Linked DNA regions of Homo sapiens. The protein of the gene in region 1 purifies or fractionates together with the protein of each later gene. This does not show direct contact. Each region holds a gene or a part of one and is shown in the gene's direction. Other genes may lie near its edges.

Evidence for each region.
Region 2: the proteins of FBXO42 (region 1) and ESYT2 purify together in Homo sapiens (affinity purification with mass spectrometry, with the first as the bait; one large-scale study listed by BioGRID). This does not show direct contact.
Region 3: the proteins of FBXO42 (region 1) and PPP4R1 purify together in Homo sapiens (affinity purification with mass spectrometry; one large-scale study listed by BioGRID and IntAct). This does not show direct contact.

What each region holds. Positions count from the first base shown.
Region 1 is NC_000001.11:16,345,855-16,349,501, reverse strand, and holds part of FBXO42 (F-box only protein 42), read left to right. Parts: intron 1-3,647. UniProt on the Homo sapiens protein: Substrate-recognition component of some SCF (SKP1-CUL1-F-box protein)-type E3 ubiquitin ligase complex. Specifically recognizes p53/TP53, promoting its ubiquitination and degradation.
Region 2 is NC_000007.14:158,826,693-158,831,136, reverse strand, and holds the start of ESYT2 (extended synaptotagmin-2), read left to right. Parts: upstream 1-1,627; 5' UTR 1,628-1,718; coding exon 1,719-2,048; intron 2,049-2,116; exon of another isoform or gene 2,117-2,955; intron 2,956-4,444. UniProt on the Homo sapiens protein: Tethers the endoplasmic reticulum to the cell membrane and promotes the formation of appositions between the endoplasmic reticulum and the cell membrane. Binds glycerophospholipids in a barrel-like domain and may play a role in cellular lipid transport.
Region 3 is NC_000018.10:9,552,012-9,555,658, reverse strand, and holds part of PPP4R1 (serine/threonine-protein phosphatase 4 regulatory subunit 1), read left to right. Parts: intron 1-2,236; coding exon 2,237-2,337; intron 2,338-3,647. UniProt on the Homo sapiens protein: Regulatory subunit of serine/threonine-protein phosphatase 4. May play a role in regulation of cell division in renal glomeruli. The PPP4C-PPP4R1 PP4 complex may play a role in dephosphorylation and regulation of HDAC3.

The sequences.
Region 1 (3,647 bases):
AAGATAGTGTTCGTGAAAGTGCTTTGTAAAATGTAAAATAAAAGGTAAATGTAAAATTGATTATTCCTATTTATGAACCACCTACTGAGGGCCCTCCATATGGCGGGTGTTTTGGGAAGTAGGTACTAATTTAAGACAGCTTTTGGTCTGAAGTTGCATATAGTATGGCTGGGGAGCCAGACAAGGAAACCCGTTAAGTGCTATGTAGTGTTAAGAAGTGCACTGAATCCAACCAAGAGAGTCAAGGAAGGCTTCTTGGAGCAGGGATGGCTTTTCCCCAACCTTTCCTATTATTCTGCAGAGTCTGCCTTTAGTGAGTGACTTGCTTTTTATAAAAACTTGAAAAAAAATTCTGTCATGGGTTCTTTTCCCCTTTTATTCATTCACTGTCATGACAGTTCCCACACAGTATGCCCCAGTTATGGCTTCTGCATTCTCAAAAATCCAGCAGTCTTGGGAAAACCTTTCTATATGAGTCATATACACAGGCAACAAACACAAACATTGCAGCTGCAATTAAAATATCTCAGATTACTAAGTGGTGACAACTTTAGAGTGATGATGCTTTTTTGTTTTTGTTTTGTAAACTAGTACAAGAGGCACTGTGTTTTTAATTTGATGACAATTAATACAGTAAATATTTAATTGTTATTCCTTACAATGTTGATTATAGGTGGTTATTAGTACTGTCTCCTTTTTCCCAACAATAAATAAAATGAGAAGATCTTAATTCCTTTTTGATTGAAGCTGACCGCTTAAGTGAGAATTACACTAAACTTTCTTTTTCTTTTTTATTTTTTTGAGACCAAGTCTTGCTCTATCGCCTAGGCTGGAGTGCAGTGGCGCAATCTCTGCTCACTGTAACCTCTACCTCCCGGGTTCCAGCGATTCTCCTGCCTCAGCCTCCCGAGTAGCTGGGAGTACAGGCACCCGCCCCACGCCCGGCTAATTTTTGTAGTTTTTTTTTAGTAGAGGTGGGATTTCACCATATTGGCCAGGCTGGTCTCGAACTCCTGACCATGTGATCCGCCCACCTTTGCCTCCCAAAGTGCTGGGATTACAGGCTTCAGCCACCGCTCCCGACGAATTACACTAAACTTTTATAGAATCTATGTGGATTGGTGTTGCTAGTAGCTTTGATATTGAACTTCTGTATCCCAGTACAAGTTATTTACCTTAGTGCTGTAGTTGTTGTACAATTAATTTAGCGTGTTGTTGCCTATATTGCAAAAACTTCGAATTTTTGGATTGAGTGAAATTTTTATGTGGCACTGTATTATTGAACATATACCATCTGTATCTTAACTGAAAATGAGTGATCTAAAGTTGCGGCTGATGGAAAAGTGAAGGTGATGTGTTCAGTTTTCTATAATGTGACAGCTTGCTACATGTACAAGGATATGACTTACAGACAAGTCATTTAAAAATTGTCCAGCATTAAGCTTATAATATAGCTTATGACTTATAGGCAAGTCTTTCTTTTCTTTTTTTCTTTTTTTTTTTTTTTTTGAGACGGAGTCTCGGGTCTGTCGCCAGGCTAGATAGAGTGCAGTGGCGCGATCTCGGCTCACTGCAAGCTCCACCTCCCAGGTTCACGCCATTCTCCTGCCTCAGCCTCCCGAGTAGCTGAGACTACAGGCGCCCACTACCACAGCTGGCTAATTTTTTGTATTTTTAGTAAAGACAGGGTTTCACTGTGTTAGCCAGGATTGTCTCGATTTCCAGACCTCGTGATCTGCCCGCCTCGGCCTCCCAAAGTGTGGGGATTACAGGCGTGAGCCACTGTGCCTGCCTAATTTTTGTATTTTTAGTAAAGATGGGGTTTCAACATGTTGGCCAAGCTGGTCTGGAGCTCCTGATCTCAGGTGATCCGCTGGCCTTGGCCTCCCAAAGTGCTGGGATTACAGGCGTGAGCCACAGTGCCCTGCCTGAAATTTCTACTTTTTAATTTGTAAAGTTGTTTGTTTGTTTGTTTGTTTGTTTGTTTTGAGAGGAAGTCTCTCTCTGTTGCCTAGGCTGGAGGGCAGTGGCGCCATCTTGGCTCACTGCAACCTTTGCTTCTGGGTTCAAGTGATTCTCCTGCCTCAGCCTCCTGAGTAACTGGTATTACAGGTGCACACCACCATGCCTGGCTAATTTTGTATTTTTAGTAGACACGGGGTTTCACCATGTTGGCCAGGCTACTCTCGAACTCCTGTCTTCAAGTGATCCACCTGCCTCAGCCTCCCAAAGTGCTAGGATTACAGGCATGAGCTACTGTGCTGGCCTGTAAAGTTTTTTTCTGAGTTTTTAATTTTTTCCAGTGTTTTGCTTCAAAGGTGGATGTATCTTGTGATGCTTTGATGCGCACACACACACACAGATAAGTGTATTTATATATGTACACTATATAAATCTGATAAATGTATAGTTATTATATATGGCAATAGTCACTTTTAAAATTGTACTATTCTGACAGGCCGGGTGCGGTGGCTCATGCCTATAATCCCAGCACTGTGGGAGGCTGAGGTGGGTGGATCACTTGAGGTCAGGAGTTCAAGACCAGCTTGGCCAACATGGTGAAACCCCATCTCTACTACTAAAAATACAAAAATTAGTGTGTGCCTGTAATCCCAGTTACCTAGGAGGCTGAGCCAGGAGAATCACTTGAACCCAGGAGGCAGAGGTTGCAGTGAGTTGATGTCCCTCCACTGCCCTCCAGCCTGGGCGACAGAGTGAGACTCTGTCTCAGAAAAAAAAAAAAAAAAATGTACTGTTCAGTACAGTAATTTAGCTTAGTAACTTATTTTCTCTTGTTTTTTTTTTTTTTTCCCCGAGACGGAGTCTAGCTCTGTCGCCCAGGCTGGAGTGCAGTGGCGCAATCTCGGCTCACTGCAAGCTCTGCTTCCCGGGTTCACACCATTCTCCTGCCTCAGCCTCCTCAGTAGCTGGGACTACATGCGCCCACCACCACGCCCAGCTAATTTTTTGTATTTTTGGTGGAGACGGGGTTTCACTGTGTTAGCCAGGATGGTCTCGATCTCCTGACCTCATGATCCGCCCGCCTCGGACTCCCAAAGTGCTGTGATTACAGGTGTGAGCCACTACGCCTCGCTCTCTTATTTTCTAGTAATAAATAGATTTGAAGTAGTTCATTTAATTTCTATAAAGGCAAGCGTGTTTTGGTTTTAGCTGGTAATGTTCCCTTAGAATATTTTCTATTTAGGATACTTTCAGTTGTTTTAAGGAATTCACTAGTATGGGGGTAAACGCACTTTCAAATGTTTCCTTTATTGATCTCTAATAAGGTAGGGTGTTTACTTTTTTGCTTTTCATTATAAATTTCTTCGTAAAGAATTGGTGAAGTGGTCACCTCAGTGGTAGCAAATAAGTTTCCTTGCTACTTTCTGTATCACTATATTGTACATGGATTTTAATTTATTCATTATTTTACACTTCGTTCTCACCATTAGTCGTTCTGACCCTGAAATTTGGCCAGCATAAGCCTCCTTAAGTTGGTAGTGTGTCCTTCTGATATGTCACCTTTGGTCTTGGAGTGCTTCCTTATTTTTTGTCACAACAAGCTATCCCGGATTCACCTTGTATCTACCTGTCATTGAAGTGAAATTAGTCGTTTTTCTAAGAAGACCTGGTGTCTTTTTTTTTTT
Region 2 (4,444 bases), on another chromosome or scaffold:
GGATGTGATCCTACAATTTTCCAGTAGAGGAAAGCTGCAAAAGAAAGGCTCAGGCTCCTTTCTGTGTCAACAAAGCAATTACTTGCTTTTGTGTTGAGGCTTAGTTTTGAATGAAAGGTGGTGTTAGGAGCATTAACCGGTTGCATATTTACAATCTACATAATATAATTTGTTGCTGCAGCAAACCAGGGACTGTGAAGAGTAAGAAAAGGGAAACCACTTCCATTCCTTGCTTGGGGTTTACTGCCCTTGCCTGGAGTTGAGAGTTTAGACTCTGCAATGTTTTACATATGTGATATAATCTCCACATACATATGCACACAAAATTATGAAGACGCAGGAACGAGGGGAGACAGATTCCTATGTAAAGGTGACCCTGCTTCTTCTGGGCATTTGTTTATTCATTCAGTACCTGCCAGTGCCCTACTCTGTTACAAATTCAGTAAAAATTTCCTTGGAATTCACTGAATATGCTCAAAAACAGTCAAGTAGGATGTTCTTTGCTACTGTTTGGCTTGGAGTTTCCTTGAAAGAAACTACAGAACAAATATAATTAACTCGATTGAATTCACTGGAAAGTAAAGTGATCAATAGTTGTGTTTTTGAGTTAACTGAAAAGTGACCTCAGGAATCACAGGAAAGGCCCAAAATTAGTCGTTTGAAACAGCTATTCATAGTTGGCCACAATATTAACACCTTCGGCGAAGCTGCGTGGTGCCCGGGGTGGAGTTCCCGAGTGTCAACAGCGTCCCTTGGGCGCTTGCGGTGGTCTTTGCCCGGCACTACCAGACCCCTCAGGGAGGACTTTTGGGATTAAAGGCATCTTAAAAGCCAACTGAACTGTGTGAGAGTTGTCAAGGTCACAACGGAGTCGTTTGTGTTTAAAACCCTGACAAGCAGGGTGGGAAGGGCCCCAGAGGCAGCGTTCTCACGCCGGAATGCCCGATAACAAGACCGTCCCGAGAGACTCCGCAAAAGCCACAACCTTGCACACTGGCTAGGCAACCTCACACCGAAAAATACCGGAGGACTCCCGCCAGCGGCGCCCGTCCGACCTCCGGCGGGCGGCGCCCTCTCACCCGTCCTCCTGGCCGCAAAATGACCGCAAACAGGGACGCCGCCCTCTCATCCCACCGCCACCCCGGCTGCGCTCAGCGGCCGCGCACCCCCACGTTTGCCAGCAGCTCCCAGAGGCGGTCAGCCTTTGGGTTTGACGACGGCAACTTCCCGGGCCTCGGCGAGCGCAGCCACGCACCCGGAAGCCGCCTCGGGGCGCGACGCCGAGCCAAAACCGCCCGCGGGCTCCGAGGCCACAGGCAAGTGGGGAGGGTGCCCCGTGGGGCTCGAGGGGACGCAGGCACGCCCAGCCCACGCACCGAGCACTCTCCTTTCCCGTCCCCGGCTCCCGCCAGCCGAGACACAACGCTCGCGTGATGACGTCGTGCGCCTGCCCGGCCCACTCCAGTAGTCTCCGACCCGGCCCACGGCCCGCCCCGCGCGATGACGTCAGTATCCACCCCGCCCGCTCCCGGTGACGTGCCAGCCCCAGGCCCACGCCGCTCCCGCCCCGCGTGATGACGCCACCGTCCCGGGCGGAGGCGGGCGTGCGGCGGAGCCGCGTCCCCTCAGAGGGGCGCTGGCGCGGGGCTGAGCCGCCCGGGATCAGCGCGAGCACCCAGCCCGCCTCGGCCGGGAGGGCAGCGCGGCACTGCGGGGCGATGAGCGGCGCCCGGGGCGAGGGCCCGGAGGCGGGCGCCGGCGGGGCTGGGGGCCGCGCGGCGCCTGAGAACCCCGGGGGCGTGCTGAGCGTGGAGCTGCCCGGGCTGCTGGCGCAGCTGGCGCGGAGCTTCGCGCTGCTGCTGCCCGTGTACGCGCTGGGCTACCTGGGGCTCAGCTTCAGCTGGGTTCTCCTCGCGCTCGCGCTGCTCGCCTGGTGTCGCCGCAGCCGCGGCCTCAAGGCCCTGCGCCTGTGCCGCGCGCTGGCGCTGCTGGAAGACGAGGAGCGCGTCGTGCGCCTGGGGGTGCGCGCCTGCGACCTGCCCGCCTGGGTGAGTGCAGACCCCTGCCCGTCCCGACCCCTGACCACCAGTCCCGATCTCCCCTCGTCCAGGCAGGCACTCCCCTCCCCGCGACCTGCCGCCTGGGTGAGTGCAGACCCCAGCCCTGCCCCGGCTCCCGCCTTCGTAGTCCCCCACCCACCCCGGTCCAGGCAGGCGCTTCCCTTCCGCCTGGGCGAGTGCAGACCCCAGCCCCGGCCCCCGGGCCGGTTCCTGCGACCTGCCAACCTAGGTGAGTGCAGACCCCGCCCCGCCCCCCGGCCCCGACTCCCAGCCTGCTGGCGACCTGCCCGCTAGGGCGAGTGCAGACCCCAGCCCCGCCCCGGCCTCCGGCCCACTCCCTGCGAACCTGTCCGCCTGGGGCCGCCGCCCGCTGCTCGCCGCTCCCGCCCTAGTCCTGAGTGCTCCGTGCCCTCCCTCCGTCCAAGTCGGGCGTCCCCTTCTCCGCTTCCCCGCCCGCCCAGGCTCCGGGTCCGGGGCGCGTCTGCCCTCGTGAAGCCTCCCCTCGCCGTCCCGCGCGGCTTTCTCGGAGACCCCTCTTCACAAAGCCCGCTTCCCTCCCCCGGCCTGCAGACCCCGAGCGCCAGCGGCAGGTACCGGGCTTGGCGCCCCCTCTTCGGCCGCGGCCCTGCCCGGAGCGCGCGCTTCCTCCTGGTGCCGCCCGCGGGGTCTCCTTAGGGGCCTGAGCGGCCGGTTCTGCTCTCAGAGCGCCCAGCGCGATTCTCGTGCGCATTCCCAAAGCCCTGCCGGCCTGGAAATGCTCCGGGTGGCTTCAGCTTTTCCTTCTCTCTGTTTTTTAAAAAACGTAATGACAGCTGGTGGGGGAGAAGTTAACTTTTTCTTCTACCGGGAGAAGACGCACTCGTGTCTTGGTTGTTTCTGACGCATTTCAAGGGCAGTAAGTGTCTCTCGAAAGATGTGGAGATATTAGATAATTGAAAGATTGTTTCAGTTTTTTTGCAAGTATAATTGTGAGACTGAGCATTTTTATATGGGATCGACCTGAATCCAGTGTGAATGTGTGTGTGTGTGGCAGGAAGTTTTGGAAGAGTTGCAGCAATAACAAGAGTCATGGTATTATTTTATTTTTAACCCGGCAGTTCTCTACCTCGTATATTTATGGACTATAGACACGAAGAGTTGGCTTCAAATCTTTTTCTTGTCATTCCCTAATTCTTTCTTAGCCATGACTTGGCTTCACAGTTTCACACTGCAAGAAAGGATTTTAATGATTCTTCCATTAGGCTTAATATAAACTTTGGGGTGAAGGTGACCAGCAGTGGGTTTCGGAAGGGTCATTTTCTCTTAGAGGAGAAAAGTCCCTGTTTCCAGTCATGAGACACCTGAGAAGTAAGGCATGACACAGATGGCAAACAAGAATTAGAAAGGAGGCGTGCCCAAGACAAGAAGAAGGTAGTAGATGCTACTTTGTGACGTCATATTGCAACTGGAGTAAGAATATAATGTAAGGAGCTTGGGAATGTACAGTTCTGCCGATGCGTGGTGAGCATGAGGGAGTCATATTTGGAGAACCAAGGTAACTGGCATGGTGCAGCTTTTAGCTAGCGGCGGGAAAAACCGAGGGGTGTGTAGAAAAAGGAAGTTAAGAGGAACCGAGGTGGGGAAAACTAAGAACAGAGGAGGTGCACTTTGGAAATGGAAAAGGACTTTAAAGTGACGTTTTGTGTCTATATTACACTAAGATGCATAATACTAAAAAGTAGCTAAAAACAGAGTCCATTAGCATCCATTGCTATGTTATATTGATAACATAGCAATGTTATCAGTGCTGAAATTTGCAGGAAGTGATGATGCTGACTTTCATAGATACTTGGTTATTGGCTAATATCAAATTTGCTTGTTAAAAATCTTTGTGAAACACAGATTTTCTTTTTCTTTTCTTTTTTTTTTTTTTTTGAGACAGAGCCTCTCCCTGTTGCCCAGGCTGGAGTGCAATGGCGTGATCTCGGCTCACTACAACCTCCGCCTCCAGGGTTCAAAAGATTCTCCTGCCTCAGCCTCCCGAGTAGCTGGGATTACAGGCGTGCACCATCACGCCCAGCTAATCTTTGTATTTTTAGTAGAAACAGGGTTTCACCATGTTGGCCAGGCTGGTCTCAAACTCCTGACCTTGTGTTCCGCCTGCCTTGGCCTCCCCAAGTGCAGGGATTACAGGCGTGAGCCACCGCGCCCGGCCACACAGACTGTACAGATGAAATTGCTGCCCTATTGAAGAACTGAAATTTTTTTTTTTTTTTTTGAGACGGAATCTCGCTCTGTTGCCAGGCTGAAGTGCAGTGGCACCATCTCAACTCACTGCAACCTCCGCCTCCCGGGTTCAAGCCATTCTCCTGCCTCAGCCTCCCGAATAGCTGGGACTACAGGCG
Region 3 (3,647 bases), on another chromosome or scaffold:
CTGAGTAAGCGGGGTTTTTTTGCAGACATGTTAACCTGTGTAGGTTGTCATGTATTTTTCTGAATGTGCCACATCAGGGCTAATGTGGTGTTGGCTCTTCCCATCATTGGTGACGAGAAGGCTGACAACTCCATTGTAAAATGACCTTTTACCTTTTGTGGTTAATAGAGAATTGGTGAGGTGATACTTTAGAACTCTGAATATCTTTTTCTCTAGAGTCCTTCACCAGTGCTCTCATATCCAGGCATCTATACATGGTTCTTACCTGAATCAGTTAACTGTGTTGGTTGTGAAAGAGTGATTTTCTATTTTCATAATTCTTTCTGTTTTTTTTTAATTAATTAACTTACTTATTTTGAGACAGGGTCTCACTCTGTTGCCCAGGCTGGAGTGTAATGATGCAATCATGGCTCACTGCAGCCTCCACCTCTCCCAGCTCAGATGATCCTCCCACTTCTGCCTCCTGAGTAGCTGGGGCCACAGGCGCACCACCACGCCCAACTGAGTTTTGTATTTTTTGTAGGGATAGGGTTTCACTATGTTGCCCACACTGGTCTTGAACTCCTGGGCTCAAGTGATCTGCCCCGCCTTAGCCTCCCAAAGTTCTGGGATTACAGATGTGAGCCACTATGCTGGGCCATTCCTTCTGTTTTTATTAAGTAACATTCCCATGTAAAAATAACCTGTGCCTTCTCTCCTTCCCCGGTTTCGAAAGTTATTTTAGTATTAGTGGGGACTCTAGGATTTTAAAAATTCAACATAATGGAATCCATTTCTGTCATTTGTTTTGAGCATCAAATTTGACTAGTGGAGACCCCTTAAAGCTGCCTCTTGTGTCCTTTGATTTGTCCTTTGATTTTTAAGTGCATCAATACTTTCAGTTTCAACTTTCCCTTTCCCTGTCCCAGCCTGGAGTCAGCTATTTCTCCAAGGAACTGTGGTCCTTTTTAGTGGAGAATGGTCCTTAGAAACTGAGATCCAGGCACTGGAAGTGCTCATTGCTCCTGGCCTGTCATTTCTTTTAGGTCTTTTCAGGAGATAGTAGCTAGGAGGTGTAGATAGTAGCTAGGAGGTGTGATGCTTTTTTTTTTAATTAAATTACTAACTTCATATTGTTATGAACTGCTTCCAATTCAATACCGTTTTCTCTCTTCACTTTATATATTTTTTTCTTTTTACTCCTGGTAAAAAGTCTGTTCTTAGTAACATTAATGTGTAATATTTAGTTGTGGCTGGGCACAGTGGCTCACACCTGTAATCCCAGCACTTTGGGAGGCCAAGGCGAGCGGATCACCTGAGGTCAGGAGATCGAGACCATCCTGGCTAACACGGTGAATCCCCGTCTCTACTAAAGATACAAAAAATTAGCCGGGCGTGGTGGCATGCGCCTGTAGTCCCAGCTACTCGGGAGGCTGAGGCAGGAGAATCGCTTGAACCTGGGAGGTGGAGGTTGCAGTGAGCCGAGATCCCGCCACTGCACTCCAGCCTGGACCACAGAGTGAGACACTGTCTCAAAAAAAAAAAAAAAAAATTAGTTGTTTGCTGAGTTCCACAACATAAATGAAATAGTTTCAGAATTACTCCACCAATAATAATTCCCACATCAAATCAACTACATAATATTCAGGACTTCCTAGCACATTCTGTCCTTAGAACGTCCCTTGAAGATGTATGGTCAAAGTAGTCAGTTCACACTTTGGCTTTTTTCCCTGTGTGATTGTTTTCCATCTGATGCACAGTTAGGTTGGTTTGCTTCCGTTTATAAACTTACCTTTAAATATTTATAGAGCAGCTATTGGGATACATTTATTTTTTTTCTCTCAACAAATACTGAATGCCTACTCTGTGCTGTCACAGCGTCACACGCAGGGCTTACACACGTGGTTAAGAGCATAATTACTGCCTTAAGCGGGGCCATGGCAACAAGGATGTCATATGAATAAAGGGGGCAAGCCCTGTAATCAGGCTGTGCCCGGGGTACTGTGGGGTTTAGCGTGGCTCATTGATAGGCACAAGGAACAAAGATTTCCAGACAAGATGGTGATTCCTGAAGGCAAATGGAATTATTCAGGGAAAAATAAACTTAATACCAAATTTTAAAACACTTAAATACAGCTACTACATTTCCTCTTCAGAAGAATTAACCATATTGCTTACAGTCTGTTTTTAAGCACTCTAGTAAAAGAAATACTGTCTGTACCTTGTCCTGGTAAATATTTTTATTTTGTTACTTTAGCTTCTTCATATTGACAAAAGAAGAGAATATCTTTATCAACTTCAGGAGTTTTTGGTGACAGATAATAGTAGAAATTGGCGGTTTCGAGCTGAACTGGCTGAGTAAGTTCTAACAGTTTATTAGATTATGTTTTGGAGGGGTATATATTTACTTCATTTTTACATTTTCTCAGTTTCTTCATTACTTTGTGTAGATCCAAGTTTCTATGTGGTATTCTAGCCCTTTAACGCTTCCTGTAATATGTGTCTTACTGTCAGTGAATTTCCTCAGCTTTTTTATTTTTTCTTGAAAATGTCTTTAGTTCATCTTTATATTATTTTTATCATGGTGAAATACACATAGCCAAATTTGCTGTTGATGACATTTAGTCCATTCACAGTGTTGTGGAACCATTCCCTCTATCTAGTTCTGAAATGTTAACCTCCCGAAAAGAAAAACCCATGCCCAATAAGCATCTACTATCTATGGATTTGCCTGTTGCGGACATTTCATGCAAGTGGAGTCATATAACACATGGCCTTTTGTGCTTGGTTTCTTCATTTAACAATGTTTTCAGTTGTCCTCCATATTGTATCCTCTAGCTGAACCTGCCTTCCTTTTTGTGGTTGAGTAATATTCCATTGTATGGATATACCACATTCGTTTAGGGCATTCATCTGTTGAGGAACATTTGGGTTGGGGGTGTGGTCTTTTGTGAATAGTGCTGCTAGGAACGTTTATGTACAAGATTTAATATTTGAAATCTGTTTTCAGTTCTTTTGAGGTGAATTTGCAAGGCCATATGGTAATTCTGTGTTTAATTTCTTGAGGAACTGCCAAAACTTTTCCACAACAGCTATACCATTTTACATTCCCATCAGCAATGTATGGGAGTTCCAGTTTCTCTGTCTCCTCACTAACACCTATTTTTCTACTAAATTTTAAAAATATTTCTAAATTGGCCAAATAATAATTGTGCATATTTGTGAGGTATGTAATGATGTTGCAATACGTATCGGATAGTGGTCAGATAAGGGCAGTTAGCATATCCATCACTCGCTTATCATTTACAGCTGTTCTGATGGGCTTGGAACAGCACTTCATTGTGGTATGATTTGCATTTCCCTAATGACTAATGATGTTGAACACTTTTCCATAAGCCTGTCAACCATTTGTGTATATTTTGTGGAGAAATGTCTATCCAAGTCTGTTGCACATTTTTAAATTGGATTATCTTAAGTTGTGTTGTTGAGTTGTAAGAGTTCTTTATATATTCTGGATTATAGACCTCACCTGCATTTTCAAATGATGTCTTTGCTGAGTATGGAATGTGGGGCTGACAGTTTGTCTTTCAGTATATTAAAGATGCCACTCCATTGAGTTCTGGCTTGCCCACTTCTGACTCAAAACACACGCCTCCTCTTCTGCCATA